Linked DNA regions of Homo sapiens: region 1 is linked to region 2. The links come from fine-mapping of genetic effects on gene expression. Tissue or cell type: monocytes. Region 2 holds a variant in brackets; the other region holds the start of a gene. All regions are shown on one strand. Distances are from middle to middle.

Region 1 (2,500 bases), 27 kb after region 2:
TGCCCGAAACACCCCGGTAATTGACCCTGGCCAGAGGAGCGGCCTTTGCTGGGAGACCTGGGGTGGGGACGCGGCGCCCCTGCCACCCCCTTCCTTGGCTCAGATTCGGCCGGCTTCTGGCCTCGTGAGGGATAATGTTTCTCCCGATCGTCCACAGCCCCTTTCGTCCAGCTGGGCGTTCCATCATTCCTGGCGAGGAACAGGAATCCCCCTACAGCCCTTCCCAGCAGGAACCCCACAAACCTGGATCCATAACCTCGACCCGCGGCTCCCGCTGCCAGGGGGTCCCTGGCGCTGTGGGGGCGCTGCCCGTGGCGGCGGCTCCTGCCTTCAGCTCCTTATCGGTGCTGCCCAGGCGGGCGTCGCAGGGCCGGCTGTGGGGCTCGCCTTCCCCGCCCGGAGCCGTGGCTGCAGGAGCACCGGCGTCATTCCCTGCGGCGGCTGGACCTGAGGGAGAGAAGACAGCGCTGGCGGAGTCCGGGGCCGCAGCTGCCAGAGGTGGGGAGCGCCCGACTAAATCCCGGGACCACGCGCGGGGAGCCAGGTTCCCGGGAAGTCCAGAGAGCTGAGGTCCGGTGCCTCCGAGGGCGCCCCCGCCGTGTGACTAAGCCTACAATCCCTGAGAAGGGCGCCTGCTCCGGGGCTTTCTCCCTGGGGCTTGGGGTTCGGTTCCGGCCCGACGGATGAGTCAGAGCCCCGTGGCTCCCTCCGACGGACTAGCTCCTCACCCCTCGGGGCTGCCAGGGGGAGGGGAGTCCAGCTGCGTAAAAATCCCAGAACTTGAGCGGACATTGCTGGGCACGAAGTTCTGGGAGAGGATCCCTGCCCCAGCCATCCAGGTTGCCGTGTCCCCTGCCCGGAGCTCCAGAGCGGTGGGAGCCGCGGCGCGCGCTTCTCAGGGCCCCGCTCCGTTGCGACGCGCGCGGCGCTCGTGGGAGCCGCTCCCGGGTCGCGCCAAAGCCAAGCCCGAACCGGGCCACCAGCTGCCGCCTGCTCTCGCCCAAGCGACAAGTGGCCCAGTTCCCGGGGCCCCGCGAGGGCGGGCCGCACAGGAGCCACGAGCGGCGCGAAGGCAGGGTGGGCGGCCCTACCCAGTCGGTCCGGTTTGCTGGGGAGGCGCCACCGCCGTTCCCTACAGTGGCCTGGGGCGGAACGCAGCTCGTCCCAAGCTCAGCCCACGTCTGAGGGACTGGAGCGCCCCGCTGGAGCGGACTCCCCGGCCTCGCTCCCTCCGGCCTCAAACTTTTCGCTCAACTTCGCAGCCGGCGCCGCGGAGCGGGGAGGGCACTGAGCCTCGGCGCCGGCCTGGCTCCGCCCCGCGCTCCCGGGGGTGGAACCTGAGCCCGGCGCGGCCTCGGCCTCTGCCCGCCTCCGGCCTCAGCGCGCCGCCTCCGGCACGGCCCGCGCCCACGGCCGGGCCACGAGCTGGTTCCCGCCCGGGTCCTAGGAAGCGGCAAGCGCGCCCCCGCCGCTCGTCCTAGGCGTCTGGCTAGAAGGCGGCGCCGCGACCTGGCCGGGTGAGCTGAGGCGGCAGGCCGCGAGGCGCGGAGTCCCGGGCCCGGCCGCGAGCGCAGTGTCTGGGGCGCGCGAAAGCGACCGCGCAGCGCAGACGGAGGCGCGGGCTCCGCGCGAACTCGTGTCGGAGCGAGCGCCGGGCGCGCGCGGCTCCGCTCTCCCGGGGGACCCTTGGTTTCACCTCGACGCCACGACCTCGCCCCCGCGGGTGCTGTCGGCGCCGGGATGCAGCGCCCCTTTTGCGCGCTCTGCCCTAGCCCACCCGAAATTCGAGGCCCGCACGCCACCCGGGGCGCCTCTCCAGGCCGGGGCGTCTCGCCCGCCGCCCACCAGCTTCCCTCTTTCTTCCTCCCCCGCGCTCCCACGGAGGTTATTTTTAACTTCCCGACGCTGCAGCTGGGCTACCGAGCCTGAGGCCGCCTAGCGCGCTGTCCCGGGTAGAGCAGGCGACAGGCCGGGGGCTCCGAGCCGGAGAGGAGGCTTGACAGTGTAGATGGGCCTGGGGGCCCCCGTCGGGATTGGAAAGCCAAGCATGTGGTACGTGCCCCCCGCCCCCTCTGGCTCAGCGTGAAGAAGGGGCGCCGGAAACGCGCTCAGAAGTTGTCACTTCTTTGGAGGCCAGTAGGGACGCGTTTGTCAGTGTGTTTGTGATACACTTATCGCGGCAAGCCACAGAACGTGTCCGCGAGCACCTCGAGTTAGATCCCTGGGGGGTTACGGCGGAGACGGAGGAAGAAGTTGCCAAGGCCCATTGGTGACCTGCCCAGGTAGGGCCAGAGTTAGGAGAAACCAAGCCCCTGCGGGAGGCTGCGGGGCTCGCGCGCCCCCGCCGGCCCCACCCGCCCCCACACACCTCTCTCATCGCTTCTTAAAGTCGAGAAGAGGCAGGTCCAGGAGGAGCACGCAGCCAATTAGCCGGGCGGCGCCCTGAACTCCGGCACGCCTCCGCGGTGTCTTCTCTTCCGGAGGACCCAGGCAGCTCGGC
Region 2 (2,835 bases):
ACGTCAGATTCTTGCAAAATCTTTAAAGACCATATGTGTACCTTATTTTATGTTTGTATTCTTGTCTAGCCTTGAATATATAGGAATCACTAAAAAAGTGGGATCCTAGGCCTCAGCAAGGTTTCCTGCTTCCACCCCCGCAAAACTGAGTTGGGTTTTTTTGTTTCATTTTGTTTTGTTTTGTTTTTGAGACAGAGTCTTGCCCTGTCTTCCAGTCACCTAGGCTGGAGTGCAATGGCGCAATCTCGGCTCACTGCAACCTCCGCCTCCCGGGTTCAAACGATTCTCCTGCCTCAGCCTCCCAAGTAGCTGGGATTACAGGTGCCCACCACCACGCCCAGGTAATTTTTGTATTTTTAATAGAGACGGGGTTTCACCGTGTTGGCCAGGCTGGTCTCGAACTCCTGACCTTGTGATCTGTCTGCCTCAGCCTTCCAAAGCACTGGGATTACAGGCTTGAGCCACTGCGCCCGGCCGAGTTGGTTTTCTTAGTTTGAAAAATATATATGCACTAACACACGTGACCCCTGTCTTGAACTATAGTGGCGCCACACCTGTGCTGGCAGTGGAGTGGGCACATGGCAGCGTGGAGCTAGACCCTTCAAGCTCAGGGACAACCAAAGAGCCAGAGAGGCCTCAGCTGAGACAGGAGGGGAGGGAGAGAGGCTGGTTAGGAGCCCCTGAGGTCCCCAGCACAATTGGAAGCTCTGTCTCTCCCACACCCCCAGTTGGCCACTGTCAAGTTCACTCTTTTTCTATACACCTAGGACTCAGACCCAGCTCAGACAATAAGAGATGGGGGGTCAGGGAGGGGGTGGAGGAGTGGCGTTTCTCAGATTGTTTTTACTCTTTGGGAAGTATCAAGTTGGAATTTAGAAGTTTCCAGTGCTGGTCTAACCTCATCTTCCTTTTAGGAATCTGGTCTTTGAGTCCTGGCCTAGGTCAACAGCTTCAGTCCTGTGTGTGGCTGCTGGACCTTCAGAGGTCTAGGGTCTGGCTTAGTCCTACAAAGGGAAAGCCTCACTCTTTGAACACAAATCCAGGAGCCATTGCAAGCTGACCTGTTGTCTACACACTCACCAGGGACCTAGTGTGGGGCTGGTCGTCCGCTTGTCCTTGAGGTCCCAGGCTGTCTGTGAAGCCTCAGCGGGCACTTGGCATGATGCTGGACCTTTTCTGTTTGAGACTACTGCAAGCTGTGAGCTGAAAACCTAGTATTGGGGCCAGGCACAGTGGCTC[A/G]CGCCTGTAATCCCAGCACTTTGGGAGGCTGAGGCAAGAGGATCACTTGAGCTCAGGAGTTCAAGAACAGCCTGGGCAACATGGTAAAACCCAGTCTCTACAAAAAAAATAAAATTAGCCGGGTGGTGGCATGTGCCTGTAGTCCCAGCTACTCAGGAGGCTGAGGCAGAAGGATTACTTGAGCCCAGGTGGTTGAGGCTGCAGTGAACCCTGCTTGCGCCACTGCCCTCCAACCTGGGTGGCAGAGTGAGACCCTGTCTCAAGAAAAAAAAGAAAAAATCTGGTATTGATTACATCACTAACCTCCAGAAGCGGTGGGGTTGCCTTTTACCCCGGGATTAAAAGAGAGCACCCATGTCTCGTCCTGTTTGGCCTTCCCTGGTGTCTGACACCTGGAGATGACTGTGGCATGGCTGGTGGCTTCCAGCCTTGAGCTGTAAGTGCTTAGGCTCCATGCAGGCCCCTGCTTTTGGACTTCTTCCAGCTCCCCTTTTTGAACTGGGAGCCCATTTAGTGTTCAAATGCTGGTGCTAGTGGCCAGGCACAAAGCCGCCTTTTCCCTTGGGGCAAGGGCATGGCCTCCAGGAGCAGCCCAGCCTTTAGGAGCCATCCGCTCCTACAGGGACATGACAATCAAAATCACTTGAAAGTAGCTTCTTGGCCAGGTGGAGCGGCTCACACCTGTAATCCCAACACTTTGGTGGCAGGAGGATTGCTTCAGCCCAGGAATTTGAGACCAGCCTGGGTAACATGGCAAAACCCTTTCTCTACAAAAAATTACAAAAATTAGCCAAGCATGGTGGCGTACGCCTGTAGTCCCAGCTATTCAGGAGACAGGTGGGAGTATTACCTGGAAGATGGAGCCATGATTGCACTCCAGCCTGGGCGACAGAGTGAAACTCTGTTCTTCCCACCCACCCCCTCCCCCACCACACCAAAAAAAAGTAGCTTCTTTATTTAGCGTCTTTGTATTTTCAACATGTTGATCAGCCTCAGTTTGTGTTTTCTATTCCTGGATCACTTTATACAGTGAATTTGGATTCCACCTGGTCAGTCAAGGTCAGTGTTATGAATGAGAGTCTGGACCAGGAGCTGCAGGACGAGCTAGTTGCTTTTGCTGTGTTATTGGGGGTCAGCCTCAAGACTGCAGCTCAGAGAAGCAGCATGTGCCTTGGGAGTCAGGCAGCCGTGGAGGGAGAGTGCTCCTGGCAGGAGAGGCCCCCGGTGAGCTTCCCCGGCTCCTGAATGCCTGCTCTGAGTGGCCCCCAGCATAGCTTCGGGGAGCTCAAATGGGGCACAACAGAAGTGCCCAGCCTCCTGCCACGTTGCCCTCTGCCCTGGCATTGTCCCTGACCCCTCACTTACCATTTGATTGCTTTCCTACTTGATGTATCCAGAGGCTGGTCCGCAGACCCACCTTCTCTGCCATTGTTCGGGTCTCAGCACCTGCGTCTCCAGAGCACCTTCAGGGCTTCTCAGCTGTGGCACTGCGGGTGCGTTGGCCACGCCATTCTTCGTTGAGGGATGTCCTGTGCGTTGTTAGATGCTCAGCATTCTGGCCTCTGCCCACTAGATACCAGAACCCCCACCACCCTT

What was found. PIP is the estimated chance that this variant, and not a neighbour inherited with it, causes the effect.
Region 1: it holds the start of SPHK1, and the variant in region 2 is fine-mapped to the expression of SPHK1 in monocytes (TOPMed, PIP 0.91).

The regions. Positions count from the first base shown.
Region 1 is chr17:76,383,398-76,385,897 of GRCh38, reverse strand. SPHK1 (sphingosine kinase 1) reads right to left here and starts at 1,289. Exons shown (of 6, transcript NM_001142601.2): 1 at 1,092-1,289; 2 at 244-447. The coding sequence starts at 253. RefSeq lists silencers at 922-1,621, 2,202-2,341, 2,362-2,500.
Region 2 is chr17:76,410,369-76,413,203 of GRCh38, reverse strand. All of the region lies in intron 1 of UBE2O (ubiquitin conjugating enzyme E2 O), which reads left to right. Among named protein-coding and RNA genes, the nearest start is that of SPHK1, 27 kb to the right of the region's middle. The variant A/G (reference allele first, on the strand shown) is at 1,240.